Homo sapiens: one gene and its partners. The protein of the gene in region 6 interacts with the protein of the main gene of each other region in a biochemical or structural test. Each region holds a gene or a part of one and is shown on either strand. Other genes may lie near its edges.

Region 1 (4,316 bases), on a different chromosome or scaffold from region 6:
CATGCCCCTGCACTCCATCCTGGGTGACACAGCAAGACTCCATCTCAAACAAAACAACAACAACAACAACAACAACAACACCACCACCACCTAAGTAGGCTGTACTTCTGCTGAAGTCTATAAAAAAGTTGGTTAATCATTCTAAGAGACGTCCCCTTCAGATGCCAACCTCACACAAGAATAAGCTAGTGATTCCCCAAGGTTTATGGGATCCTACTAGCAGATATACAAAGTAAATTATCACAATTACTTAATAACTACTTTAACACTCATCCTTGCCCACTGCAAGGCCAAAGGAAGCATTCCATTTGCTTAAGCAGTAGACTAAGACCATAGCATTTTTAATGGATACAGCAAAACAACTTGTGGGCTGGCTCCAAGGCCTCGGACTGCCCCATGAGCCCTATCAAGGAAGTTCCTGAGATGATATCTCCATTTATGGAAGAGAATTAGGAGGCAACCATCAGCAGGGTAAACAGTTACCTGACCAGGAGTGGCCACCGAAGGGCACTTTGGTTCTGGGCAGTTGAGGCATTGAACCTGGCCATCTCTGATCTGGATTTCAAAGTAGTCCTTCAGACAGGCTTTGCAGTACACATGCCTGCACTCCAAGAAGTACATGCATTCACTACCCAGCTTCTCACAGAAACAGATACTGCACAGGAACAATTTACTATTAAAGCATTTTATCTGCTGAGCTTGATCAAAGTCCAAGATTTCCTGGATCAGATTTGACAGTGATTCCACATCCTGCACTGCTCTCTCATCCACAATTTCCTCTTGGTCTACATCAGATCCAGCAGCTCCTCCAAAATCTAGCTCTGTGTTGGGAGAAGCTTGAGCTGTCCTTCTCTGCACTTTTTTCTGAGAACCAATCTTGAGCTCAAAAGGAGAGACAATATTCAAGTATGCTAGGGTCTCTTCCTTAAGAAATTGCATCCAGGCAAACAGGACCACGCTGCCACGGTGTTCTTCCCATAGGTTGTCTAAGTGCTTGCATAGAGCAGATAGCTAGGAGAAAACACATGAAGATGTTGGTGAGTTTGGAAAGATGATGCTGCTGCCAACTCCTGGTTTCCCTAGAAATCTTTTCCACTTGCAAGTTAGGCCCTTATTCTAACACTATTTTTTACTGCTGTGATACACTGTGCTACATACAAAACAGTACAAACATTCTTACTGGAGCACTTCTTAAACTATTCGGCAACATGAGCCAGAGTAGAACATAAAGTCAGAAGCAAGAAGTACCACGAGAAGAAGAGAAATAGCAAGACTCCGTAAGGTAGAGAAATAGCTGTACATTTTAGCCACTGAAATGGAAGACTTTTTTCTGTTCTTTAATCTTTTAGTACTGCCATATACCTCATGTAGGACAAAGAGATCTAGTTCTAAAAATAAACTATTTTTCTTCCATTAGGAGTCCTAGCCCTGTTCGTATCCTAGAATAATGGTTAGAAAAAGAATAGTTTAAAAATACTATCCAAGTTTTAAAATTAATTCTTTCAGTTTTATCAAAAAGTCAACTCATCTGAAACAATCACTAACAGAATTCAACCTCAGAGTCCTTGTTCAGATTTACAAGCTGCTTTTAAGTAAGCAATCTGGGCTTATATCAGATCCTGGTTAATGGAGGGAAGCTGCCTGATATTGACCCTGGTCCTAATCACAAGCCCTCAGCAAGGTTTGGCAGCCATAGAGAAAGCTTACACTTCCTAAGCTAAGCAACCAAAATTAAATTATTTGGAATTTTCCTCTTTAAAAGTGGTCTGTTCAATTTGAAAGGCAAATGTTGGAGAATTTTCCATTAGAAATATAAAATATTTTTAACTAGAGCACAGGAATTATAAGCAGCTTTTCTTTTTTAGGTAAACATCCAAAAATATGCCTTCCAGATGGCAAACAAATTTTGTAAATTTAAATGACAAATGAAAAGGGACCAGATTTTCTGTTTCTTACACTCTGTGTAGTGCCACTGACTAAACCCTGCATAGGTACTACCTTAAATACTTATTGATGAGTTAAGATTGAACAACTAATGATTTTTCACATTTGCATAAATATCCTTATAAATCAACCATGCTTTTGAGAAATCTGCTAACATCTGTAAAATGTGATAAATACTAAAAGGGAAGCTATGAGTGCTGTGTGAGCTACCAAGTCCTATGAAGAAGCCATTCTCCAACCTCTTTTCTACCCCAGTCCCTTCTCAAGAGAGGCAGCTGGGGCTGGGCGTGGTGGCTCATGCCTGTAATCCCAGAACTCTGGGAGGCCAAGGCGGGTGGATCACCTGAGGTCAGGGGTTGGTGATCAGCCTGGCCAACATGGTGAAACCCTGTCTCTACTAAAAAATACAAAAAATTAGCCAGGTGTGGTGGCGGGCGCCTGTATTCCCAGCTACTTGGGAGGCTGAGGCAGGACAACCACTTGAACCCACTAGGCAGAGGTTGTAGTGAGCTGAGATTGTGCCCCTGTGCTCCAGCCTGGGTGACAGAGCAAGACTCCATCTCAAAAAAAAAAAAAAAAAAAAAAAAAAAAAAGAGAGAGAAAGGCAGCTGGAATGCATGTAAATGGAAGGGGGACGGGAAAGAGACTGTGTAAGTATATTGGGGGAGGAATAAGGAATAAGGTTTTAGAAAACTAAAACCACTTCCCTCTGTCTACCCGCCCCAATTCAGGGAATGACAGCTCTATGTGTCAATTTCACCATTAACAGGTGAGAGTCATAATGCCAAGGAATCAGGGTACAGCAACAAACAAGAACTGAACCAAGAAGGAATATAAGAGACCAATTAAAATGTTAATTATATGCATAAACATTTATTTGATTAAGAATTCTACTGTAATTTTAGCTGTAACACATAAAACAACTCTCTTCCCCAGCACACACCTCCGCCCCCAAATCCAGCATTAAGTAGATGCTGGTTGGCTGGAATCTGAAACCACAACCACGCATCCAGTTAATCTGTCCCTGTTTTGTGCGTGTGTGTGCATGCACGTGCATGCACGCACATGCGTGGATGTAAAGTATGAAAAGCTCTCTGGTGAAATAGGACTATGAAGATCTAAATAATTAAGCCAACTATCAGTGGCCTAAATGCCAAACAGTCTTGATATTCCTGGACAAATCAACTGTCTTGCATCTGTTGCCTCTGGCACAGACATTAGAATGTAAAGTAATACTCCTTTTTATTCTACCTGTGTTATCCTTTTTAAGGTTTAATTTTGCTTTTAAACCATAAGCTCTAGTTTGTGAAAGTACTCTCACTTAAAAGATTAGATTGGTGGATGGGGAAATGAAAACTGTATGATCCAAAGAGAAAAACTAATGAGCTATTCCTTGAGGTCAGCAACTCTGACATCTTTTGTCTTTTTCTTTTTTTTTTTTTTTTGAGACAGGGTCTCTGTCTGTCACCCAGGCTGGAGTGCAGTGGCTCAGTCTTGGCTCACTGCAATCTCTGCCACCCAGGCTCAAGTGATCCTCCCACCTCAGCCTCCCAAGTATCTGGGATTACAGGGACGCACCACCACACTTGGCTAATTTTTGTATTTTTTGTAGAAATTGGGTTTCGCCATGTTGCACAGGCTGAGCTTTTGTCTTAATACACATTAGTCTATTGATCTTCATTATGACTTCTAGAAAAGCAGCTGCTGATTCATTATCTCTCCCAGAATGCTTTATATTATTTATATTTAGCTTCAAGCCATATTTATGTCTCAATCAAGAGTTGAGGTTGTTACTAGAAAAGTATATATAACCCAGAGGAAATGAGGTGCTTAACATAAGGCCTCAAGCCTTACTGAGATATCTACAGGAACTATACACATTTCTACTTGTATGCATTTATGTCTACGTGATACCAGTTGACTGTTATTTGTTATTAATACAGATTTTTACAAAGAAAATCAGTTATTGTATTCACTCAGAAAATTTGCTTATTATAACTACATTAGCTCAATTTTTAGTCCTAATTACAATGGAATCTTTCATTTAAGGAATGGATAAGAAACTAAGAGAAAAGTAGTATCAATGTCTAAGGAAAATGAGGAAGACCTCTTAGTCTCCATTATAATACAGATTAAACAGGAAAATAGCAAGACAAGAAAAGAAATAATATACTTGATTAAAAATTACTCCTACTACAATTCATGATTGTTTTAATTACTGCCATTCCTTTTTAAAACACCAAACATTTTCAATTTCTTAACATCAGGATTCACCAAGGCAAGGGAAAAAAATTACAAAACCAAAGCCATTTGTTTTTCATGCACTGAATTCAAGATCTTTAAGATAGTCTTCAATTAAAGGTGATTTTTAA
Region 2 (3,771 bases), on a different chromosome or scaffold from region 6:
TTTTTTTTTTTTTTTTTGAGATGGAGTCTTGCTGTTGTTGCCCAGGCTGCAGTGGCACAATCTCGGATCACTGCAACCTCCACCTCCTGGGTTCAAGTGATTCTCCTGCCTCAGCCTCTCGAGTAGCTGGGATTACAGGTGCCACCACCACGCCCGGCTAATTTTTTGTATTTTTAGTAGAGATGGGGTTTCACCATGTTGGCCAGGCTGGTCTCAAATTCCTGACCTCAGGTGATCTGCCTGCTTCGGCCTCCCAAAGTACTGGGATTACAGGCGTGAGCCACAGCACCCACCCCTGGTCACGTTTTTAAAGCCACTTTCATATCCAGTTTCAATGGCTCACACCTGTAATCCCAGCTACTTAGGAGGCCGAGCAGTAGGGATTGCTTGAGGCCAGAAGTTCAAGACCAGCCTAAGCAACATAGCAAGACTCTGACTCTAAAAATAAAAAAATAAAAAATAAAAAACCTCCCTTCAAGGAAAGCCTTACTTAAATGAGTAATATGGTTGTAGTATTAATTAGATAACAAGATCCTTGAAATCATCAGGCATATAAAATAGGGCTGTTCTAATGTAGCACTGGGGCTTGCAAGTATTCCTAATTTATCTAGGCAATTGTAATGACTGTTGAAAACTTTCTTTTTCCATTTTACCTTTTGTGTTTCCTTGGCATGGCAAAACCTGATGTTTCAGCCAAGTGATTTTATAAGATGTGTATAAAATCACAAACTTTTTCCCCTGGAAAAAAGTGTGTACTTTGTTTTATTTGCATTTTAAAAATTGCATGCTCTCTTGTATTTTATAACCTTTGGTTTATGCAGGAATATGCTGAATTTCAGTATCGGAGGAGGCACAGACAACGTCGTCGAGGAGATGTTCACAGTCTACTCAGTAATCCTCCAGACCCTGATGAGCCAAGTGAAAGCACTTTAGGTAAGTCCTTGCATTGAGTATGGTTTAATCTCATAGCTCCCCTGAATTTATCCTTCAAACTGGCTGATGTAAATTTTTGTGAACGAGTTTGTCATTTAGATATACAATAAATATGCAGATGTTTCTGTTGTGACAGGACACAGAAAATCAGAGGAGTTAGGAGCATGGTCTGTGGAGTTAGGCAAACTTGGATTCATGACCCCATCTCTGCTGCATATTAGCTGTGTAACCTAGTCAGGTCACAACCTCTCTAAGGTTGTTTCCATATTCTAAAGACACAATAATAATAGTGCCACCTTATAGGCTCATTGTGAGTATTAAATTAGATAATGCATCTAAAACACTTAAGCACCTAGTGAAGCACTCAGTTAATTGTAGTATTGATTGATACTGTTTTGTGTTCATGGAATATTTGTCTCCTAGCCTTAGTTGTCCTGTAGACATTATTTAAAAGAGAGAGAATTTCTGGCATTAGAGATAAATTATTTTAATTATTCAACTTTTAAATGTTAAATTATTAAGTGAAAATCTTCTGACTATAATGTCAGGATCAATGGGACTAAAGATTTGCTCTTCAGACTATTGTAATTCCCAAATTATTTAATTTTAAGAAATCTAAAAATGAAAAACGTTTATTAGTTATTGCTTAACAAAAAAAGAGAAATGGATAGTAGCACTTGCATTTATGAATAGAACTATATAGACTGCAAGCAAAAGTGTAAAAAAGTCAGCCAGGCACGGTGGCTCATGCCTGTCATCCCAGCACTTTGGGAGGCCAAGGTGTGCGGATCACAATGTCAGGAGATGGAGACCATCCTGACCAACATGGTGAAACCCTATCTCTACTGAAAATGCAAAAATTAGCCAGGCATGGTGGTGCACATCTGTAGTCCCAACCACTCGAGAGGCTGAGGCAGGAGAATCGCTTGAACCCAGGAGGCAGAGGTTGCAGTGAGCCAAGATTGCGCCACTGCACTCCAGCTAGGTCGACAAAGCAAGACTCCATCTCAAAAAAAAAAAAAAGTAAAAAGTTACGGATTTGAAGTGATAGTATCATATATATATTATTCTTCATGGTAAGACAAATATGGATGAGAAATCCCAGAAAGATTAAGTGAACATGTCAACACAGGTTTTCCCCAGCACTGAAAGAGAAATTGCCCATCTAAACAACCAGATGTATGAAAAAAATAAATAAGTCTTATTTGTCACTAAATTGTCTTTGGTACCAATTGCTTTGAAACAGATATTCCAGAAGGCGGCAGCAGCAGCCGCAGGCCTGGCACATCCGTGGTAAGTTCTGCATCTATGAGTGTGCTGCACAGCTCTTCCCTGCGTGACTACACCCCTGCCAGTCGCTCTGAAAACCAGGACTCTCTTCAGGTAGCCTTTCTGAACAGCCTCATTGCCTGTGCTTTTACTCTTTCTCTGCTGAGTGTGGTTTCCTGTTGTTACTTTCATCGCTTTCCTATTTCTTCCTTCCATTCTAAAATCTTTGTTTTAAAGATGTGCTGCAGGAAAAGATATTCCTATATTTTAGATTTATTTTAAGGTATGTTTTTTTTTTCCTTTAGCATGGGCATGGAGAAAAATACAAGATTTTAGTAGATAAAATAATTTTTCTGTATAAATAAAATTAATAATCTGTTGGTAAAGGAAGAATGGTAAACCTGATTGAGTTAAATCAGTTTTTTTCAGTCAAATTTTAAAGTGGTTTTGCTTTCTGTTGCTTCAGGCTCTGAGTTCCTTGGATGAAGACGATCCCAATATACTTCTTGCAATACAGTTATCACTGCAAGAGTCTGGGCTGGCCCTCGATGAAGAAACTAGAGACTTCCTCAGTAATGAAGCATCCTTAGGTGCGATAGGCACTTCTTTACCTTCCAGGCTGGACTCTGTCCCCAGAAATACAGATAGCCCTCGGGCTGCATTGAGCAGCTCTGAGCTTTTGGAACTTGGTGACAGCCTCATGAGACTAGGAGCAGAGAATGACCCATTTTCAACTGACACCCTGAGCTCACACCCTCTCAGTGAGGCAAGAAGTGATTTCTGTCCCTCATCTAGTGATCCTGACTCAGCTGGCCAGGACCCCAACATCAATGACAATCTTCTCGGCAACATCATGGCTTGGTTTCATGACATGAACCCTCAGAGTATTGCCCTGATTCCTCCAGCAACTACAGAAATCAGTGCAGATTCCCAGCTCCCCTGTATCAAAGATGGGTCAGAAGGTGTGAAGGATGTGGAACTGGTGCTGCCAGAAGATTCAATGTTTGAAGATGCCAGTGTCAGTGAAGGTAGAGGAACCCAGATAGAAGAAAATCCTTTGGAAGAAAATATTCTGGCGGGGGAAGCAGCATCTCAAGCTGGTGACAGTGGTAACGAGGCAGCCAACAGAGGAGATGGTTCAGATGTTTCAAGTCAAACACCTCAAACCTCAAGTGACTGGCTTGAACAAGTACATTTAGTGTGAACTGCACACATCTGGGCTCTAAATGAATTACAGGTACAGATGGTATGCTAGGTGGAGTATGCTTGATAGAGACTTTGATTCACTTAATTCCAACTCAGTGATAAACCACTGACATTAGGGTTGAATACAGAGAAGTTCCCTTGAATGGTAGCTTCATTTTTTATTTTAACCTTACAGGGAATTTCCTTTGTACTTAATTGAATAGCTTTTCCCCTTTTTGCTGACAAAAAGAAGAGCAAGAGAAAGAGAAACAAAAATGAAATAAATAAGTTGTATTCCACACTCTAAGAAAATGCAGTCCTCTATTTAGCCTAGGCTTGACAATACTTAAATTGAACATTTAAACTAAAGGCTTACTCCCTAAT
Region 3 (4,316 bases), on a different chromosome or scaffold from region 6:
TATTGCGTGACAAAATAGGCAGTACGCACAAAGCACTTCTGCATACCGGCAGATGTTGTCTGGAGAAAAAGCACTTAAGTGAAGAGCGGCAAGTTAAACCAGCTGCTTTTTTTCATGGAACACCATTTTTACCTTCTGAAAGAACAAATGATAAACTATGGCTATTCAGACTTAGCTACCTGACATTTTCTGGGGAAAAAAAATGAGCTTGCTACTTCAAAGAAAACAATTGACAGTATCTCTTGCTAATGAAAAGGCTGGGTTTTATGTAAAAATTAGAATTTTGGAAAACATTTGATATTTATGAGCCTGACAGCTTCCCATTAATTAAAGACTTTTATGATGAGATGGGCAGTGATATTAATGAATGTGAGGATTTTCTGAGGGGAAAGGAGTACTGTATAATGAAATGTGTCAATATTTGGAGATCTGCAAAACACAGTGAATACTATTTCAAGTCACTAATGCATGTTACAAATCAGGCATGGGTAAAAGATCCATTTGAAGTTCACGAAAGACCAACAGGTTCATAAACAATTTCAGATTCCATACTCCAACAAAGAAACTAGCACTTGCTGAGTTTTTGTATAGTATCACAAGAAGATTCAGGCTGGGAGCAGTGGCTCACGCCTGTAATCCTAACACTCTGGAAGGCTGCAGAGAGTGGACCGCTTGACCTCAGGAGTTCACGACCAGTACGGGCAACATAGCAAAACTCCACCTCTACAAAAAAAATACCAAAAAAATTAGCCAGCCATGGTGGCATGCGCCTGTAGTCCCAACTACTCGGGAGGCTGAGGTATGAGAATCCCTTGAGCCCAGGAGGCAGAGGCTGCAGTGAGCCGAGATAGCACCACTGCACTCCAGCCTGGGCAACAGAGAGAGACCTTGCCTCAGGAAAAAAAAAAAAAAAAAAAAAAAGATTAAATTACCTGAAAAGGCTATTTAAATAATATTCCTTCCTTTACCAACTACATATCTGTGTAAGCCTAGATTTTTGTGTATTTCCTTTTCTTTTCTTTTTTTCTTAAGAGATGGGGTGTCTCACTCTGTCACCCAAGCTGGAGTGCACTGGCATGATCATAGCTCACTGCAGCCTTGAAATACTGGGCTCAAGTGAGATCCTCCCAAGTAACTACAGACTGCAGGTGTGCACCACCATGCCTTGCTAATTTTTAGTTTTAGTGTTTTTTGTTGTTGTTGTTTTTTTTTTTTTTTTTTTTTTGAGACGGAGTCTGACTCTGTCACCCAGGCTGGAGTGCAGTGGTGCTATCTTGGCTCACTGCAACCTCCACCTCCCGAGTTCAAGTGATTCTCCTGCCTCAGCCTCCCAAGTAGCTGGGCCTACAGGCACATACCACCACACGCAGGTAATTTTTGTATTTTTAGTAGAAACGGGGTTTCACCACGTTGGCCAGGCTGGTCTTGAACTCCTGACCTCAGGTGATCCATCCGCCTCAGCCTCCCAAAGTGCTGGGATTACAGGCGTGAGCCACCGCGCCTGGCCGTGGATTTTTTTATAGACAGGGTCTCACTATGTTGCCCAGGCAGGTCTAGAAATCCAGCCCTCAGGCAATCGTCCCACCTCCACCTCCCAAAGTGCTGGAATTACAGGCATGAGCCACCACACCCAGCCTTCTTCGTTTATTTCAACCAAAATAATATATTCCAACAGGTTAAATACAGAAGCAGACAAAAGACTCCAGCTGTCTTCTATTAAATAGCCATTCATTACAGGCCTCTATTGCAATGCCATGCTTCTCTTAATTTTGTTTTGGAAAATAGTTATTTTCCTAAATTATTTGTTAACTTGTAATGGGTTTATCATTGTTATTTTACGTGAGTATTTTTTAAAAATTGTTTTAATTTCTAATAGAGTAAATATCGACAGTACAAACATAAAGTTCTTGGGATTCTCTTTTTTTTTTTTTTTTTTTTTTTGAGACAGCTTTTTCACCCAGGCTGGAGTACAGCAGTGCAATCTCAGTCCCCTGCAACTTCTGCCTCTTGGACTCAAGCCATCCTCCTGCCTCAACCTCCAAGTAGCTGGGACTACAGGCACGCACCATCACACTCAGCTAATTTTTTTTTTCTTTGTAGTTTTTTTTTGTAGAGATGAGGTCTCACCATATTGCCTAGGCTAGTCTCAAATTGCTGGGCTCAAGTGATCCTCCCACCTCAGACTGCCAAAACACTGAGATTACAGGCCAGGATTCTCAATTTTTAAGAGTGTAAAAGTGTCCTAAGACCAAAATATTTGAGATCCCTAATACAGGCAATACCATTTCTCAATGCAGGTTTATTATTTTTAATTCTTATTTTGAGAGACAGGGTCTTGCTCTGTTGTCCAGGCTGGACTACAGTGGCCTAATTATAGCTTACTGCAGCCTCAAACTTCTGGGCTCAAGCAATCCTCCTGCCTCAGATTCCTAAGTAGCTAAGACTACAGGCATGCACCACCACGCCTGGCTACTTTTTTTTTTGTAGAGACCAGGTCTTACTAGCTGGCCTCAAGCAATCCTCCTGCCTCAGCCTCGCAAAGCACTGAGATCACAGGTGTGAGCCACTGCATCAGGCCACAAGTTTATTTTAAATATACATTCATCTCTATAGTTGTAAAACCAAAGAGTACTACATATTTCTACATTCAGTTTACTCAGGGATATATGCACATATCACATTATCAACAATATCACATTATCAACAATAACATATGACTTAATCGGTAGGCCATCTATGATAAAAAGTGAATACTTGGCCGGGCACGGGTGGCTCATGCCTGTAATCCCAGCACTTTGGGAGGCCGAGGCAGGCGGATCACGAGGTCAGGAGATCAAGACCATCCTGGCTAACACAGTAAAACCCCGTCTCTACTAAAAATACAAAAAAATTAGCTGGGCGTGGTGGCAGGCACCTGTAGTTCCAGCTACTTGGGAGGCTGAGGCAGGAGAATGGTGTGACCCCAGGAGGCAGAGCTTGCAGTTAGCCGAGACAGCGCCACTGCACTCCAGCCTGGGCAACACAGCAATACTCTGTCTCAAAAAAAAAAAAGCGAATACTTTTTTAACAGTAATTTCAACAGCCATACATGACTGGACTATATCTAGAAGGTAAACAGTATTTAAAGGACAAGCTGAGCTTGCAGGGTTAATTAGTTTATGGCTTTTTTTTTTTTTTTTGAGACTAAGTCTCACTCTTGTCACCCAGGCTGGAGTGCAATGGTGTGATCTTGGCTCACTGCAACCTCCGCCTCCCGGGTTCAAGCAATTCTCCTGCCTCAGCCTCCAGAGTAGCTGGGATTTACAGGCACCTGCCACCACGCCCAGCTAATTTTTGTATTTTTAGTAGAAACGGGGTTTCACCATGTTGGCCAAGCTGGTCTCAAACTCCTGACCCCAGGCAATCCACCCGCCTCCCAAACTGCTGGGATTACAGGGGTGAGCCACCGTGCCTGGCGTTTTTTTTTTTTTTTTGAGACAGAGTCTCACTGTTGCCCAGGCTGGGGTGCAGTGGTGCAATCTCGGCTCACTGCAATCTCTGCTGCCCAGGTTCAAGCAATTCTCCTGCCTCAGCCTCCCGAGTAGCTGGGATTACAGGCACCGGCCACCACGCCCGGCTAATTTTGTTGTATTTTTAATAGACACGGGGTTTCACCATCTTGGACAGGCTGGTCTTGAACTCCTGACCTCATGATCCACCTGCCTCAGCCTCCCAAAGTGCTGGGATTATAGGCGTGAGCCACCACGCTGGGCCCTATTTTTTTGGGTTTTTTTTTTTTTGAGACAGAGTCTCACTTCGTCACCCAGGCTGGAGTGCAGTGGCACAATCTCGGCTCACTGCAACCTCTGCCTCCCGGGTTCAAGCGGTTCCTCTGCCTCAGCCTCCTGAGTAGCTGGGAACTACAGGCGCCCACCACCATGCCCAGCTAACTTTTGTATTTTTTGCTGGAGACAGGGTTTCACCATGTTGCCCAGGCTGGTCTCAACCTCCTGACCTCGGGTGATCCGCCCACCTCAGCCTCCCAGAGTGCTGGGATTACAGGTGTGAGCCACCACGCCCAGCCAGTTTATGGTTTTATAGTAGATTGTAAGATACATGTATTTATAATACATAACATAGGGAGAACTAAAGCAAAGATTATTCTGTCTCAAATTTAGTGTCATATTGCAAAAAAAGGTGTAATTAGCTGATTTTTCTGAAAAATCCTTTGTGATATGACAAATCATATAACCTCTGAAAAGCATTGGAAAGAGAATGGCTATAAAGACTCAACTTAGTTTGTCTTCTGAAAGAGATTACCACACAGCTGTAAGACA
Region 4 (4,316 bases), on a different chromosome or scaffold from region 6:
AGTGCTGGGATTGCAGGTATGAGCCAACACACCCAGCCTCACGCTTTTTTTTTTGAGACGGACTATCGCCCAGGCTGGAGTGCAGTGGTGTGACCTCGGCTCACTGCAACCTCCGCCTCCCAGGTTCAAGCAATTCTCCTGGCTCAGCCTCCCCAGTAGCGGGATTACAGGCGTCCGCCACCACGCCTGGCTAATTTTTTTGTATTTTTAGTAGAAACGGGGTTTCACCATGTTGGCCAGGCTGGTTTTGAACTCCTGACCTCAAGTGATCTGCCTGCCTCACCCTCCCAAAGTGCTAGGATTACACGCATAAGCTACTGCGCCCGGCTTGTGATTTGCTTTTTTCACTAATGTCTTAAGATCTTTCCAAGTCTGCCTCATGAAAACAAAGTTTATGAGAGAACAGTCATACAATACATGTAAGAATCACAGTACAGCACGGTCACGGGGAGGGGGACACTGACTGGAAAGGGAAAGGGCACAAGCAAACCTTTGTAAATATTCCGTCTTCATCTGGTGGGTGGTTTATACACACACAAAAATTCACCAGAAAGTATACTTAGGATTGGTGCACCGTCTTTTTAAATTTTTTACTTTTTCTTTTTTACCCTGTCTTATGGTGCCGAAGACTGGTGCACTTTAAAATATATGTTTGCTGCTCTGTGGTCCATTAAAAACAAAACAAAAAAATGTGTTATTCTTCTAAAAAGTTTAAAAATCTGTATTACCATGAAAGCCCATATGCTTATTACTTGGTTGAAGGGAAAAGAAATCATTGGTTTGAAAGTCTCCTATGGGGCCTCGTCATCTCCCACCTCATACTATCCTGAGTTTCTTATATCTTACTTTTTAAAACAGATTTGCCACACTTTTGCATCTCTAAACACTTTATTGATTAGTATTGTGTGATTCTGAGCGAGACTCCGTCTCAAAAGAAAAATTTGAAAAGTTGGAATTCTGATTCGAATTGCACTGACTCTATAGATCAGTCTGAGGAGATCTGACCATTTTGTAGTATTAGGCATCTTCTAACCCATGAATATTGTATATTTAATATAATACAATTTTCTCCACGGGTCGTACAGATTTTTATTTTTCTGAGACATGGTCTTGTCTGTTGCCCAGGCTGGAGTGCAGTGGTAAAATCACAGCTCACTGCAGCCGTAACCTCCCAGGCTCAAGTGATCCTCCTGCCTCAGCCACCTGAGCAGCTGGGACTACAGGTGTGCATCATCATGCCTGGTTAATTTTTTAATTTTTTTTTAAGAGATAGGGTCTCCCTGTGCAGCTCGGGCTCGTCTTGAACTCCTGGGCTCAAGCAATCCTCTCGCCTCAGTCTCCCGAAGTGCTGGGATTATAGGCATGAGCCACCATGCTTGCCTCAGATTTTAACACATTTATTTTTAAGTACTTTTATTTTCTGATACTACTATCGACAGAGTATTTTTAAAGTTACATTTTACAATTGACTTTTTGTACAGATTTTATATCTGGCAACCTTGCTAAACTCTTCATTCTAAAAATGTACCTCTGACTTTTTGGGTTTTCTACATAGATAATTATACCGCCTCTGAAGAATGATAGCTGCTTTTTCCTTCCTTTCCAGGCTGATATGTTTTATCTCCTTTTATTGTGTTACTGTGCAGACTAAACTCTCCAGCATGAGTCTGAATGCAGGTGGAGAGTAGCAGGCCACCCTTGCGTATTCCTGACCTTACAAGGGGAATGGCGGGGCGTGGCGGCTCACTCCTGTAATCCAGGCACCTTGGGAGGCCCAGGCGGGAGGATCACTTGTACCCAGGAGTTTGAGGTTGCAGTGGGCCATGATCGCACCACTGCGCTCTAGCCTGGGTGACAGGGCAAGAAAGACTGTCTGGAAAAAAAAAAAAAGGAAATAATTTCGATGTTCCACTATGAAGTATGATATGTGATGTAAGATTTTGGTAGATATCCTTCAACAGGTTAAGAAAGTTTCTTTCTGTTACCACTTCATTAAGAATTATCATCTCGTGTATTTCATATTTATACAGCTAATTGAATAACTTACAGTGATTCATTTTCTACCATTAAACCAGCAATGTATTCCTGGAATTGTCTTTTTAAATACGTTTTCAGCTGCGTTTTTTTTTTTTTTTTTTTTTTTTTTTGAGATATGATCATAGCTCACTGCAGCTTCGACCTCTTGGGCTCAAGCAATTCTCCCACCTCAGCCTCCCAAGTGGCTGGGGTTACAGGCATGTGCCACTGCATTTGGCTAATTTTTTTATTTTGTGTAGAGACAGGGTCTTACTATGTTGCCCAGGCTGGTCTTGAACTCCTCCTGGCCTCAAGCAATCCTACCACCTCAGACCTCAGCCTCCCAAAGTGCTGGGATTATAGGCATGAGCCACTGTCCCTGGCTTTTTTTTTTTTTTTTTTTTAGAGACAGGATCTTGCTATGCTGTCCAAGCTGGTCCCAAACTCAAACTCCCTGGGCTTAAGCAATCCTCCTGCCTCAGCCTCCCATGTAGCTGGGATTACAGGTACGTGCCACAACACCTGGCTGCCCTTTCTTCTTTTCTGATACGGCACGTAAAGCCTTCTAAATACCACTTTAGCCACATACCAGTTTTCATGCATATTTTCAGTTCTGTATTTCCAACAAAATTTACTCTTTAATCAACAAGTTGTTTAGAAATTTTTCTTAATTTTAAAACTATATAATCCTGTTATTCATTTTTAAACTTTTGAATTGAGGTGTAATTCACATAAAATGGAATGCCACATTTTGTTTACCCATTCATTTGTTAATGGACATTTGGGTTGTTTCTACCTTTCGGTTATTTGAATAATGTTGACACAAATATTCATGTACAAGTATTTGTTTGAATACCTGCTTTCAATTCTTTTGGGTACATACCTAGGAGTGGAATTGCTGGGTCATATGCTAATTCCGTTTAACTTTTCAAGGAATCACCAACTGTTTTCTGCAGCCACGATACCACTTTACATTCCTACCAAGCAATGCGCAAGGATTCCAATTTCTCCACATCTTTGTCAACACTTATTATTTTCCCTTTTTGTGGATTATAGCCATCCTAATGGGTATGAAATGCTATATCACTGTGGTTTTGATATGCATTTCCCTAATAACTAATGATGTTAAACATATTTTCGTGTACTTATTGGCCACTTGTACATCATGGGAAAAATGTCTACTCAAGTCCCTTTGTCCAGTTTTTAATTATTTGTCTTCTGTTGTTGAGTTATAAGAGTTTTCATATATTCTAGAAAACAGACTTTATCTGTTTTTAATATTGTTACAACTTTAATCCATCAGTTTCTCAATTTTTGCTTTTAAATCCTTAGTTTTTCTTGTATCTCTGGTAATTTTTTATTTTTATGTATTTCAAAGTATATATTTAGATATATAAAGATTCATGAGTTATAGCCTTAAACAGCATATTGTATCAATATGAAATACTTCTGCATTTTAGCGGTTTTCTCATTTTTACTTTGCACATTATGAGTACTGGCGACACTGATATTGTCACATCTTTTTTTTTTTTTAATAGTACCTCCCTCATTTAACATTCTCTTCTCCTAAGCTTCCTCCCACCTCAAATACAAAATTTCAACAAATCTTGGAAGGAGATGAGTTACCTGCACATATTTCCTCAGTTGAACCAGAAGTCCTTATGTATTTTTCAAGTCTAGACTGTGGTTTTTAAACTTTTCCAACTGTGAGTTACCATGGGAAAGCTGATGTTTGCGTAAAGCCACCAACTCCACCTGGCACCTGACCCTGGAGGGGTGTTGTGGTGAAACTCAATCACGCCACCTTTGTCTACCTGACTCATGCATTTTGTGTAATAGAGAAGAAATGACAAATTGTAAACTCTTTCAGTGAAGATAAGCCTATCTGGGACCCATTTTTTTCATCTGAATTTAAACCAAGAGAAAGAGGAATCCAATGGTTCACTTTGAGAAAACTGGAAATCCTGAGGCAGTAAGATAAAAGTATGAATCTGCCACAGTAAGTGGCTGAGTGAGAAGCCAAGAGGAAGCTGTGTGAGTAGCTCTCTCCTTTTCAATTTACCTCAACCTCAGACTATTTTCATACAAAGTTCACGGACCAAACTTTGAGAATCAGTAGTAGTCTATATGAACAGAAAACACTGGCATACAGTAGGAGGTCAACAAATAATTCATAGTCATGTTCACTTACTTCTGAATATCTCCAGTGTTTCTTTGTTTGTTCTTACTTTTCTTTTCAGACTTGGGTGTAACTGGATCAGATTTTCTGGAATTCAAGGGAGAAGCCGAGATACTTCCCT
Region 5 (4,316 bases), on a different chromosome or scaffold from region 6:
ACTAAAGAACTTATTCATGTAACCAAACACCACATGTTCCCCAAAACCTATGGAAATTTAAAAAAAAAAAAAAAAAAGTAAAATCACACATACCTCCTAACCTCACCCACAACTCATCCCAATATCCAGAAGTAACAATTCTAACAGTTTCTCATGCAGCCTTCCAGAAATTTTTAAAATATACAGCACAGGAACACAAGTAAACATATACTTTAACGCAAAAAGGATAACAAAACACGTCACTTGATTTTATTTCAGACATGTTTCCATATTAGCAGATCCATATTTGACAAGTACACTGTACTCTTTTGTAGGAATAACAGTAGAGATGTATAATTTATTTACCAATACCCTAATGATGAACATTTAGTTTTCAAATTTTTTTCCAATCACAAAAATGTGCCACAATAATCATTCTTTTACTTATATCATCATGTAGAAAGCACCCTATTTCAACAGAATAGAAAGCTCTACTCATCCTAATTACCTGAGTCTTCAGAGTCAACACCTGGTCTGCCAGCTCCTCCTTCTCTTCTTTAAGCAACTTATGGATCTGATTGGACTTGATACGCTCTGACATGAGCTTGAAATTTGCATCATCCTTCTCCCGCAATTGCTGCATCAAACGGATATTTTGCTCCTGCATGTCTTCAAAGGCCTGGCCTGTGACATCCATTTCAGAGAGGAGTGCTTCTTCTTCCTAAAGGATGAAGGAAGAGATTTGATTTTAGAAGAATCTTCCAACTTCAATGGAAGAGCACAGGAAACTAAATTTTCCCACTGTTCATTTAGATATAAATTAATTTAGTGACAGAGTTTTAAGAAGTTGTGTTTTGTCACTAGGCATACAGAAGCTCTATTATCTGAAGTCACTGGCACCAATTGTTGGTCTGATACTTATTAGTTGATCTGTACTCAACGTCAGTTAAATTAGACAATAATTGTATTTACCTTAATCTAGACAAACGGATCAAGCAGCAATTGGTTAAGAGTACTTCCATCATAACCTCTCACATTTTCTCATGCTTTTCCACAATTAAAATACTGGATCTACAGGATTTCCAGCAGTTGCAAACATCTAAAGCCTTGTAACAATCTGATAGGTGAAGACTGGTATCTAATAATAGCTTTACTTTATATCTATCTCATTTTAAGTGAGACTGAGCATCTTTTCATATGGTTAAGACCACTTGTATTCTTTCCATAACCAACTCATTTCTTTTGCCTATTCTTCCACTGGATTCTTGAGTTTTTTTCCCTATTTTGGAGAGTTTTTTTTGTATCAGATAAGCCTTCTTTGTAATAAAAGTTAAAAATATTTTTTACTTTTTGTCATTTAATCTTTTGGCTTTGCTAACAGTGTTTTTTGCAGTGTAGAAGTTTTGCATCATTTTAAAAAATAACTCAAAATTATCAATTTTTTGTTCATGTTTTCTAGCCTTTTATTCATAGAAAGGTCTCCACTCCAAATTATAAAGGAATTTAATGGTTTTCTTCTAGCTTTTTGATGGATGCATTTTTTAAAATATCATATCTATGATCCATTTGGAAATCATCCTAGTGTATTCAAGTATGTATCTAACTTTTCTCTAACATTATTTTTTTTAATTTTGTCCCATCACATGTCACAGTTTTTCTTTTCCCCACTGATTTAAAACTATGTATTTAGCACATAATAAGTATCATGTGTACTTTCAACTACTTCTCAAGTTTCTATTCAGTTCTAATAGCCTGTCTAGTAGTCCCAAGCTATTTCATCTACAGAAACTTTATGTTTTAATATATGGAAGAGACCCCAGTGCTGTTCTTTTTCAATTTCTCTTGTTACTCTTGTTTACTTCTCCACATGTACTTTAAAACCAGTTCTTCTAGTACCAAAATAAACAAAAGCAAAACTTAAAAAAAGCACTTTTATGAGATCACATTATATTAATACATAAACTTAGAAAGACTGAACATTTTTAAGATAGTCATCGTATACAAGAACATAGTGTCTTTCTTTTTACTTGTTCTAGAACCTATAATAGTATAATTTCCTGATAATTACCTTAAGAGAGAGGGAAGAAAAAAAAAAGTGGCATTTACCAGATTTAAGAAAAGTCAAAATTACACTTTTTTTTTTTTTGAGATGGAGTTTTGCTCTTGTTGCCCAGGCTGGAGTGCAATGGCGCCATCTCGGCTCACTGCAACCTCCACTCCTGGGTTCCAGCAATTCTCCTGCCTCAGCCTCCCAAGTAGCTGGGATTACAGGCATGCGCCACCAAGCCCAGCTAATTTTGTTTTTTTTTTTTTTTAATAGTGATGGGGTTTCTCCATGTTGGTCAGGCTGGTCTTGAACTCCCGACTTCAGGTGATCCATCCACCTCGGCCTCCCAAAGTGCTGGGATTACAGGCATGAGCCACCGCGCCCAGCCCAAAATTACACTTGTTAACAAAAGGAATGTGTATAGGATCTAATGAAGTTCTTCTTTTCAAGGCACTTCATGATCAACTTACCATTAAACCTACTCCATCTCACTGTTATTTTGCTATTTCTTAGAAACAATGAAGGTGTACTAACAGAGAATACATATATGGTTTTTTCAAGCATTTTCAGTATCTTTATTATTGAATTTTAATAAAAATTCCCTGGCATTTAAAAATACATACATATTCATTATAAGGAGGAGAACAATCTCTATAGTTCTATGACCCCAAAATAGCCATAGTTAACATACTGCTTAATCAATGTTATTATATTGGTTAATAGATTATATCCTTATTATATATAAATCACATATTTATAAGCATAGTTTTTCTGTGTAGTATATGTACTACATAGAAATATATAATGATATATATTTATAAGCATAGTTTTCTTAGTTTCATATATTTGTAATCATAATGTATATAAAATCTTATGTCTTATTTTTCATTTTATATTCACTATAACCCTTAATTCCAGGTCAGCAAAGAAAGACTAGATCTTCAATAACTGTCTGAACAACAGCAGAGAAAGACTAGATCTTCAATAAATGTCCATTTAAATAAAAGTAAATTTCTTGCCTCACAAATACACAAAACAAAATAACAGAAAGATAAAAGACTTGAAGGTAAGAATTAAAACACACACACAAAAAGGAAAAATACACATTAACAATCAAAAAAAGACCAAAATAAAAAAGCAAATTTCACTGGCAATAACTTATTGTCAAGTAACATTTACTCAAAAAGTCAATTAAATAAAGAAAGTGAGTCCACCTGCTTGGCCATGGCTAGCTTCTTCTGTAGGTATTCTATCTGCTCCTCCACTGCCCGGATCTTCCTCAAGGCATCCTCATCAGCCATTTTCTTGTTCTCTTTCTTCTCTTTATCTTCCAGATCCTTGAGTCTTTGCCTTAGATCTTCCAACTATAAGAGGAAAGGAATTGCACAAAAATAAAAAGTTATAACACATTTTCAAAAATCAATTAATACTGTGCAAAGATAGAAGGTTCATAATACCAAAAGAGTCTTTACAGAATTATAGAACAAGGTACATAATATACTAAAACATTACATAACACCATCTGTTTTAACATCACTCCATTCTACTATGACATGCTTCTATAAGCAACACTTTTGAGAAGTGCACAGGTAACTTTCTTTAGAATAGTGGTTCCCATCCTTTTTTTTAGGCCTCAAAATTTTAAGAGCATAAGACATTCCTCCCAAAAGTAATGAAAAAGATTATCCCTGTAGCAATGAATTACATAGGAAAAACAAGGAATACATACTTTGGAAAGCCTACTCATAACCCCAGTAATTCAGATATATTTTACCATCCTATGGAGAGTTTTAAAATCTCTACTTCAGATGGTCTTTGAAAAGGCAGAAAATGTTGCACTTAAACACTTATTTTAAAGATAAAGAAAGAAATTATATCGTTGGCAAGTATAAAGGAAAATCCCACAAATGAAGATTTTAACCAGAAGGACAGGTAATAGCAGACTAGAATACCTCTGCCTTAGACTTCTTCTCAGCTGCCATCAGCTGAACTTTGTCTCTCTGTTCCTTTGGGGCAGAACGGTACATATCCAGCAATAGTTTCATCTCCTTTTGGCTCTCCTGTGCCTTCCTATGACAGGCGTAGTAGAGGGAGGGGAACAATGTAATAAGAAAATAAAGGTCATCAGAGCAAGGGAATTTTGATTGAGCAGAATATTTTAAAACAGTTTCATTTTACATTTCATATCACACCTAAAAGATAAAATTTTGCACAGACTATCAAAAGACTTTTGGATATGCTTAGAAAGTACAGAAAAGTAAGCTGTATAAAAATGAATCATTTCTCCCTT
Region 6 (4,316 bases):
GATGGTCTCGATCTCTTGACCTCATGATCCTCCCACCTCAGCCTCCCAAAGTGCTGAGATTACAGGCCTGAGCCACCGTGCCCGGCCGCTGACTGTTCTTAATGAGAGGCGTGCTGGTGTGAAACACTTTTTTATAAGCCATCTCAGACGGGTTCAGAGGCTATTCAACCTCTGAGTTACACCCTCTTCCTCACCGTGAGTCAGGTGGTCTCCTCTCAGAAAGATGGAGCATCACATGAGCCCTGACATTAGCCCATGAGCCCTTTGACATTAGCACCTGCTTTGGTTGCAGATGTGCCTGCTGGGATAAGGGCTGTCAAAAGAGAATGTTCCCCGCTCTGCCTACCTATGCTAGGAAAGTAGGGACAAAATCTGACAAGAAAGTGAAATACAGAAAACTATAATCAACACAGCCCTGGAAGTGTTAAAAACCAAAACAAACAAAACCCAAACAGCCACCGAATCTGAAATGAACCCTCTTCTTCTCCATCTTGTCCCTTCCTCAAGACCAAAAGCAACCATCTAAAAAGCAGGAGCAAGGCCCAGAGAGCAGGGGACCTTGATGTTGGGCCTGGCTCCACCACTGACTTCAGCCTCCTCATCTGTAAACAGAGGCCACTGGTGTCTGCTTTCCAAGATCCCTCACACAGCTCTGGAATTCTAGAGTATGTGTGCAGCAAGGGTCAGAAGGAGAAACTACACAGCCACCAGAAGCAACTTTCTTAACTTTCTGCTTCAAGGTTGAAAGAGAAGACAAGGGCTGGGTGCGGTAGCTCACGCCTGTAATCCCAGCTATTTGGGAGGCTGAGGCAGGCGGATCACCTGAGGTTAGGAGTTCACGACCAGCCTGGCCAACACCATGAAACCCCGTCTCTACTAAAAAATGCAAAAATCAGGCCAGGCACGGTGGCTCACGCCTGTAATACCAGCACTTCGGGAGGCCAAGGTGGGTGGATCATGAAGTCAGGAGATCGAGACCATCCTGGCTAACATGGTGAAACCCCGTTTCTACTAAAAATACAAAAGATTAGCTGGGTGTAGTGGCGAGCGCCTGTAGTCCCAGCTACTCGAGAGGGTGAAGCAGGAGAATGGCGTGAACCCAGGAGGCGGAGCTTTCAGTGAGCCAAGACTGTACCACTGCACTCCAGCCTGGGCAACACAGCGAGACTCCATCTCAAAAAAAAAAAAAAAATTAGCCAGGCATGGTGGCACACGCCTGTAATTCCAGCTACTCAGGAGGCTGAGGCAGGGAGAATTGCTTGAACCCAGAGGTGAAGGTTGCAGTGAGCCAAGATCGTGCCACTGCACTCCAGCTTGGGCGACAGAGCGAGACTGCGTCTCAAAAAAAAAAAAAAAAAAAAGGAAAGAGAAGACAAGAAGCAAGAATATTACATCTGAGACCTCAACTTCTCAATCAAGAGTTGCTTTCGGCCAGGCGCAGTGGCTCACATCTGTAATCCTAGAATTTTGGGAGGCCGAGGTGGGCGGATCACAAGGTCAGGAGTTTGAGACCAGCCTAACCAACATGGTGAAACCCCAGCTCTACTAAAAATACAAAAATTGGGGGCCGGGCATGGTGGCTCACGCCTGTAATCCCAGCACTTTGGGAGACCGAGGCAGGAGGATCATAAGGTCAGGAGATCGAGACCATCCTGACTAACATGGTGAAACCCCGTCTCTACTAAAAATACAAAAAAATTAGCTGGGCATGGTGGCGGGCACTTGTAGTCCTGGCTACTCGGGAGGCTGAGGCAGAAGAATGGCGTGAACCTGGGAGGTGGAGCTTGCAGTGAGCCGAGATCGCACCACTGCACTCCAGCATGGGCGCCAGAGCAAGATTCCATCTCAAAAAAAAAACAAAAAAAAACAAAAATGCAAAAATTAGCCAGGCGTGGTGGCGTGCGCCTGTAATCCCAGCTACTCAGGAGGCTGAGGCAGAAGAATTGCTTGAACCCGGGAGGCGGAGGTTGCAGTGAACCAAGATCACACCATTGTACTCCAGCCTGGGTGAAAGAGCGAGACTCCGCCTCAAAAAAAAAAAAAAAAAAAAGTTGCTTTCAAACCTCCACCCCTGCCCCAGTTCAGCACCTGTGGGAGCCTTCCATAGCACCTATGCTCATCTTTGGACACAGTGACTGTCACACTACACTGGATGTTTACAATATGCAAGGTAAATTTCTGAGATATTAGAAAGACAAATTTTGAGTTCAAGAGCTATTCAATTTTAAGCTGGGCACAGTGGCTCACGCCTGTAATCCTTTGGGAGGCTAAGGTGGGTGGATCGCCTGAGGGCAGGAGTTCGAGACCAGCCTGGGAAATGGAGAAACCCCGTCTCTACTAAAAATACAAAAATCAGCCGGGTATGGTGGCGCATATCTGTAGTTCCAGCTACTCGGGAGGCTGAGGCAGGAGGAATGGCTTGAACATGGGAGGCAGAGGTTGCAGTGAGCTGAGATGGTGCCACTGCACTCCAGCCTGGGTGACAGAGTGAGACTCCGTCTCCAAAAAAAAAAAAAAAAAAAAAAAAAAAAGCTATTCAACTTTGTTGGGAAAAGTAAACTTTTCTCTTTTTTCTTTCGAGAGTCTCGCTCTATCACCCAGGCTGGAGCGCAGTGGCACCATCTCAGCTCACTGCAACCTCCGCCTCCCGGATTCAAGCGATTCTCCTGCCTCAGCCTCCAGAGTAGCTGGGATTACAGGCATGCACCACCACACTCGGCTGATTTTTGTATTTTTTTTTTTTTTTTTTTAGTAGAGATGGGGTTTCGTCATGTTTCCCATGCTGGTCTCCTCAAGTGATCCACCCGCCTTGACCTCTCAAAGTGCTGGGATTCGGATATGAGCCACCACGCCCAGCCAAGTAAACATTTTTCTTTTTCCTTTTCTTTTTTTTTTTTTTTTTTTGAGATGGAGTCTTACTCTGTTGCCCAGGCCAGAGTGCAGTGGCATGATCTTGGCTCACTGCAACCTCTGCCTCCTGGGTTCAAGCAATTCTCCTGCCTCAGCCTCCCGAGTAGCTGGGATTACAGGCACATGCCACCACACCCAGCTAATTTTTTTGTGATTCTAGTAGAGACGGGGTTTCACCATGTTGACCAGGCTGGTCTCGAACTCCTGACCTCAAGTGATCCACCTGCCTTAGCCTCCCAAAGTGCTGGGATTACAGGTGTGAGCTACTGCGCCAAGCCAACATTTTTTGAGACAGAGTCTCACTCTGTCACCCAGGCTGGAGTGCAGTGGCACGATCTCAGCTCGCTGCAACCTCTGCCTCTCAGGTTCAAGCAATTCTTCTGCCTCCCCCTCCCTAGTAGCTGGGATTACAGGCACGCACCACCAGGCCTGGTTAATTTTTGTATTTTTGGTAGAGATGGGTTTTCACCATGTTGGCCAGGATTGTCTCAATCTCCTGACCTCATGATCCGCCCACCTCGGCCTCCCAAGGTGCTAGGATTACAGGCATGAGCCACCGCGCCTGGCCCCCAGCCAACATTTTTAAACAAACATTCACACAGCTGTCTCAGTAACTCTTTCTCCAACCTACAGAATAAGAGAGTACCACAGGTAAGAGAATGGGCTCTCAGTGATGAGGGTATGTCCAGGCAGACTGGCCCCAACCTGTCCCGAAAACACCTTTGCAATACCATCTCCTATCACTCCTCCAAATCCTCCCCTCCTGTCAGGCTGGTCACCTCCCTGCCCTGGAACATGTCTTGGTTATTCCCAATAATATCTACAAGTAGCTCACACTTACTATATGCCAGGCACTCTTCTAAGCAGTTGGTATATATTAACTCATTTAACCTTCACACACGGACGAAGTAACTAAGGCACAGAGAGGTAAAGTAACTTGCCCAGGGTCACTCAGCTAAGACATGGCAGGCCCAGGATTGAAACTCCAGAACCTGAGCTTTTAACTGCTATGCTGTAGTCTTCCTCTAAACAGCTTTGCTCTGAGCAAAAGCCCCTTCCTCCCTTTCTTATAGGGGTGGGGGGCTTGGGGAGGTTAGGCTTATTTATGTCCCCCAAGAACAGGCATGATGAAGCTGGCCACAGGAGATACATGCAAAGCCCTTTCTGAGTGAGTGGCATGCCACTTCTCCTGGATAGCTGTAGCATCCAGGAGATATGTAGATCTGGCCCCTCAACCTAAAGGCTATGGCATCTCTGCCACCTGTCCTTAAATCCATCAGCACTGCCCTCAGTGACCCCTCTATAGAGAGGTAGCTCACCCTCCAAGGCTGGCCTGGCAGAGGGAGGTCTCCTAGCTCTGGAGGAACCAGGTGCACTGGACATGCCAATCTGGGGTAAAATCAAGC
Region 7 (4,316 bases), on a different chromosome or scaffold from region 6:
ATTCAGCATAAAGAGCAAAGGGCTGGAAATAAAGCCACTACTAAGCTCTGAGAGAGTTGGCCAGTTAGGTCAAATAACCAGAGACAGCCCCTTATGGCACTATGAATTAGGCACTGTTTAGAGTATAATTAGGACCAAGAAATTTGAGAAAAAAATAGGAAAACAATATATCTTATGAAACCTGGGGAATGAAAAACTTCTAAATGAACCCCAGTGCATTAAAAATCAGCAGCTATAATTCCTATTCAAAAAATTACTTCCTACTCACACTCAGATCCAAAAAGTGTTTCTTACCTTTTGATAATGCCAGGGAGTGGTAGTGTCCACAGGAAACTTGTATTATTTTTATATCATTCAGAGTCATTATTTTCCTATAATACAAATAATACAAAATTGATTAATCCTTATTTAGAGCGAGTTGTCCGGTGGACTACAGATATTTAAAAGTATCTCAAATAATACATCTGGTCCAGGAAAACTATTTTATTTTCTTGTATTTCTATAGTACCTTTATTTCAAAGCCCTCAAACTGTTTTTAACATGACATTAACATGTACCAAGTTATAGGACAGAATCCAAAACAGTATATAAATGCAAAAGCCATTGCTATTGGACTTTAATGCAATATCTAATATACTAATTTTATTCTACACTTAATAGCCTAAAAGAGAAATAAATTTTTTCTGCATATATAGTATAGGGCCTTAGAATTTATAGAACACCAACAACTTCATCATCTAATTTAAGCCCTAATTTAATGAAGAAATCATTAGGTTAAATCATACAAAATTGCCATTTTTGTGGATCAAAACCAGATAACTATCAGCAATTTCCTTTTTTTTTTTCACAGACGGAGTCTTGCTCTGTCACCCAGGCTGGAGGGCAGTGGTGCGATCTTGGCTCACTATAACCTCCTCCTCCCGGGTTCAAGTAATTCTACTGCCTCAGCCTCCCAAGTAGCTGGGATTACAGGCATGCACCACAACGTCCGGCTATTTTTTTTTGTATTTTTAGTATAGACGAGGTTTCACCATGTTGGCCAGGCTGGTCTCGAAATCCTGATCTCAGGTGATCCGCCCACCTTGGCCTGCCAAAGTGCTGGGATTACAGGTGTGAGCCACTGCACCTGGCCACTATGAGCAATTTCATAAGGTGAATCTAATGGAACTCAAAGAGGTCAAATAGTTATGATGCTGTAGAACCAGACTCAAATTCTGGTCTTTTCATTCCAAGTTCAATGCTCATTTCCCCAAGTCAAATTGATCTCTTCTAGAATTTAATGACCAGAAGAGGTAACAAGAGGTGATTTCCTAATATTAAAAAGCATGCGTTTGAAAATCCCCTAAGTATGTAATTCATAAACACATAATCCAGAGCCAACTACTTGTCATATCTGTCCTGGGAAGTTGTTTGTGAGGAAATGTGATATTTCCCTCCACTTTACTAAGTAAAATGTTAGGGCCCAGTGGTTTATGACAAGCCAAAAGGTTGTGTTGAGAAAAAAACTTCTCTTCCACCTTTGGTCCAATATTTGGGGGCTTGCAAATTAACTGACAATAGATTAACAAGAGAAAAGACAAAGGTTATTTACAAGCATGCTCGCTATTGCAGAATATCCCAAAGTAAAGTTTTATATATGTCACCTTAATAAAAGGCGGGGTTTTGGGACTTCAGTGGGAAAGTATAGAAGGTTCTATTGGGCTTTTTGATGGTAATAGTAATGGGTGGTCTATCTTAATGACAACTGAATTCCCAGGAAACTCTCACTCAAGGAAGTTACTGGGAACTGCATTTTCAGGAGGCTCTGTTTTAGTATGATAAAGGAAGTTCAGGTAAGATTTATATCTGTATCTTTTGCAGCTCAAATGTTTCTACTTTACAGTGGTCTTTATACCCACTCTGGAGGTCTAAGTTGGCCCCCACAGTTATATTCCAAGAGATAAGATTAAGATCAAAGGGTCACATCTCATTTCACTCTGCTCTAATTAAATAATAATTGGTGTTGTAGGTTTTTTCCTCCCTTCTTCCCTCACTACACTGTAGTCCTTCAGGTTAGGAACTGTGTTTGTCATAGTCTTTTTTTTTTTTTTTTTTTTTTTTTTTTTTGAGACTGAGTCTCCCTCTGTTGCCCAGGCTGGAGTGCAGTGGCGCTGTCCCAGCACCACTGCAACCTCTGCCTCCCAGGTTCAAGCGATTCTCCCGCTTCAGCCTCCTGAGTAGTTGGGATTGCGGGTGCCTGACACCATGCCCGGCTAATTTTCTTGTGTCTTTTTTGTAGAGAGGGGCTTTCGCCATGTTGACCAGGCTGGTCTCAAATTCCTGACCTCAAGTGATCTGCCCACCTTAGCCTTCCAAAGTGTTGGGATTACAGACATGAACCACTGCAGCTGGCCTGTCATAGTCGTCTTTGTATCCTGGCATCTTGCACAGTGCCTGGCACATGGTACTATATATATTGAATAAATGAAGGAGTGGGTTGAAACACTTACTTAGGTGTGAAACTTATTTCCTTGAATTCTCCAATCCCCAGCTGCCCTTCAGAACCAGCTCCCCATGCGAAGACCCTTCCTTTGTGGCACACAGCCAGGGAGTGCTCCTTCCCGCAGCTCACGAGATCAACAATTAGGGTTTCCAATGCCTGAATTGGTTCTTTGGGAAACAAAACAAAACACCCCCCAACCACCACTGCAGATTATTAATTTAACACAAGTTTAAGACAGCACTTTTCTTCAAAAAGAAGGATCATCCAGATTTCTTGTCTCCTCCAATGGTCTTTTGAATCAAGACCTTAAGTCCATTCTAAATGTCTGAAGGAAGTAAATTCAATGTATGTTACCCTGTCTTTATAGGATACAGCTCTGTTAAAATAATCAACAGGGAGACTATCAGGTTGAGATGGCTCCAGCACCTTGGGTTCCTACCTAAGCAAACCAAAACCCAACTCAGAGTGATTGATCATAGCCTAGGAAAATGAAACTTAAGGTTAACCAATCAGAAACCACCAACTAACATCTAACTAGAGACTTTACCAACCAGAAACTGCTGACTACTTCAAACAAGGGACTTTCCACTTTAACCAATCAAGTATTTTCTTTGTCTTGCTTCCTGGAACACGTTATCAAAGGTTCCCCCTGGCATCTCCTTGCACCTCCCTTAGTGGAGCCCAACTGCTTGAGGTCTGGTGCTGCTCAATTCATGAACTGCTGAATGTTCAAATTGACTCTTAAAAACATTCAATTACCCAAGTCTATCTTTTAATGGCTGTTATTTAAAGGAGTAGGCATCACGGAGGGGGTAACTTCTAGGGACTATGACACATGACCAAATGTTTCTCTAGCAAAACCTAGCAAAATAAAGAGACCCAGAAAAAAGTTGGGATCTCCTCCATTTTGCTATTCTGTCTTCCCACCCTAAACACTGAAAGCAGTGAATCCCTTGCTCAGAAGGAAATTGGAAGGGAGCCTACCTCATGAGTGTGAGAGGCAGATGCTGGATCCTCTTACAATGAAAAGTGAAAAATATGCCCCTATGGAGGCCCTAAATATGCCCACAAATGAAAACCGGATCACATTTCCCTACAAGCCAACCTAAACTGCTTTCCCAAGGTGTCTGTCTCTGAATTATTAGAGGTTTGGAGTTGAGAACATCATACCAGTAAAGTTTTTGCAACATTTAAGATTTTGTTTTTCCTTTTATCTTTGTAATCTTATCTTTTTCAACTATTTACTGTCAATTTATGCAAGGTTAAAATTTCCCAAAGATTCATGCACTCACAAAGATAGAAATTGGTACCATTTTTCTAGAGAACAATTTGGGGTTAAGTATCATGTTGCCCTTCATTTCCAAATGAGGGTGATAAGACCTGAAAACATGCTACTTTAAGAATTTGAGCTGAAGGCAATTGAGAATCAACAGATGCAGGAAGAGGTCTCTGCTCTCTTCTTATCTACCTAAAAGTAGGTCATAAATATCCTTTTGTGAGAAGCTCCCATCTCTGGCACCAAGAAAAGGGTCAGCCGGGCGCAGTGGCTCATAACTGTAATCCCAGCACTTTGGGAGGCCGAGGCGGGTGGATCACGAGGTCAGGAGTTTGAGACCAGCCTGACCAACATAGTGAAACCCCGTCTCTACTAAAAATATAAAAATTAGCTGGGCATGGTGGTGAGTGCCTGTAATCCCTGCTACTTGGGAGGCTGAGGCAGAAGAACCGTTTGAACTGGGGAGGCGGAGGTTGCAGTGAGCCGAGATAGTGCCATTGCACTACAGCCTGGTGACAGGGCAAAACCCCATCTCAAAAAAAAAAAAAAAAAAAAAAG

What was found.
Region 1: the proteins of UBE2L3 (region 6) and RNF14 form a complex in vitro, tested with the Homo sapiens proteins (2 studies listed by BioGRID, with this or other methods).
Region 2: the proteins of UBE2L3 (region 6) and ANKIB1 form a complex in vitro, tested with the Homo sapiens proteins (2 studies listed by BioGRID, with this or other methods).
Region 3: the proteins of UBE2L3 (region 6) and TRIM13 form a complex in vitro, tested with the Homo sapiens proteins (one study listed by BioGRID).
Region 4: the proteins of UBE2L3 (region 6) and RNF168 form a complex in vitro, tested with the Homo sapiens proteins (one large-scale study listed by BioGRID).
Region 5: the proteins of UBE2L3 (region 6) and RNF20 form a complex in vitro, tested with the Homo sapiens proteins (2 studies listed by BioGRID).
Region 7: the proteins of UBE2L3 (region 6) and HERC6 form a complex in vitro, tested with the Homo sapiens proteins (2 studies listed by BioGRID).

The regions. Positions count from the first base shown.
Region 1 is NC_000005.10:141,974,998-141,979,313, reverse strand, and holds part of RNF14 (E3 ubiquitin-protein ligase RNF14), read right to left. Parts: intron 1,012-4,316; coding exon 484-1,011; intron 1-483. UniProt on the Homo sapiens protein: E3 ubiquitin-protein ligase that plays a key role in the RNF14-RNF25 translation quality control pathway, a pathway that takes place when a ribosome has stalled during translation, and which promotes ubiquitination and degradation of translation factors on stalled ribosomes.
Region 2 is NC_000007.14:92,395,544-92,399,314, forward strand, and holds part of ANKIB1 (ankyrin repeat and IBR domain-containing protein 1), read left to right. Parts: intron 1-821; coding exon 822-933; intron 934-2,179; coding exon 2,180-2,316; intron 2,317-2,668; coding exon 2,669-3,406; 3' UTR 3,407-3,771. UniProt on the Homo sapiens protein: Might act as an E3 ubiquitin-protein ligase, or as part of E3 complex, which accepts ubiquitin from specific E2 ubiquitin-conjugating enzymes and then transfers it to substrates.
Region 3 is NC_000013.11:50,006,646-50,010,961, reverse strand, and holds part of TRIM13 (E3 ubiquitin-protein ligase TRIM13), read right to left. Parts: intron 1-4,316. UniProt on the Homo sapiens protein: Endoplasmic reticulum (ER) membrane anchored E3 ligase involved in the retrotranslocation and turnover of membrane and secretory proteins from the ER through a set of processes named ER-associated degradation (ERAD).
Region 4 is NC_000003.12:196,479,563-196,483,878, forward strand, and holds part of RNF168 (E3 ubiquitin-protein ligase RNF168), read right to left. Parts: coding exon 4,208-4,316; intron 1-4,207. UniProt on the Homo sapiens protein: E3 ubiquitin-protein ligase required for accumulation of repair proteins to sites of DNA damage. Acts with UBE2N/UBC13 to amplify the RNF8-dependent histone ubiquitination.
Region 5 is NC_000009.12:101,553,768-101,558,083, reverse strand, and holds part of RNF20 (E3 ubiquitin-protein ligase BRE1A), read right to left. Parts: intron 4,097-4,316; coding exon 3,979-4,096; intron 3,391-3,978; coding exon 3,241-3,390; intron 701-3,240; coding exon 488-700; intron 1-487. UniProt on the Homo sapiens protein: Component of the RNF20/40 E3 ubiquitin-protein ligase complex that mediates monoubiquitination of 'Lys-120' of histone H2B (H2BK120ub1).
Region 6 is NC_000022.11:21,573,847-21,578,162, reverse strand, and holds part of UBE2L3 (ubiquitin-conjugating enzyme E2 L3), read right to left. Parts: intron 1-4,316. UniProt on the Homo sapiens protein: Ubiquitin-conjugating enzyme E2 that specifically acts with HECT-type and RBR family E3 ubiquitin-protein ligases.
Region 7 is NC_000004.12:88,381,554-88,385,869, reverse strand, and holds part of HERC6 (probable E3 ubiquitin-protein ligase HERC6), read right to left. Parts: intron 2,686-4,316; coding exon of another isoform or gene 2,650-2,685; coding exon 2,490-2,649; intron 372-2,489; coding exon 295-371; intron 1-294. UniProt on the Homo sapiens protein: E3 ubiquitin-protein ligase which accepts ubiquitin from an E2 ubiquitin-conjugating enzyme in the form of a thioester and then directly transfers the ubiquitin to targeted substrates.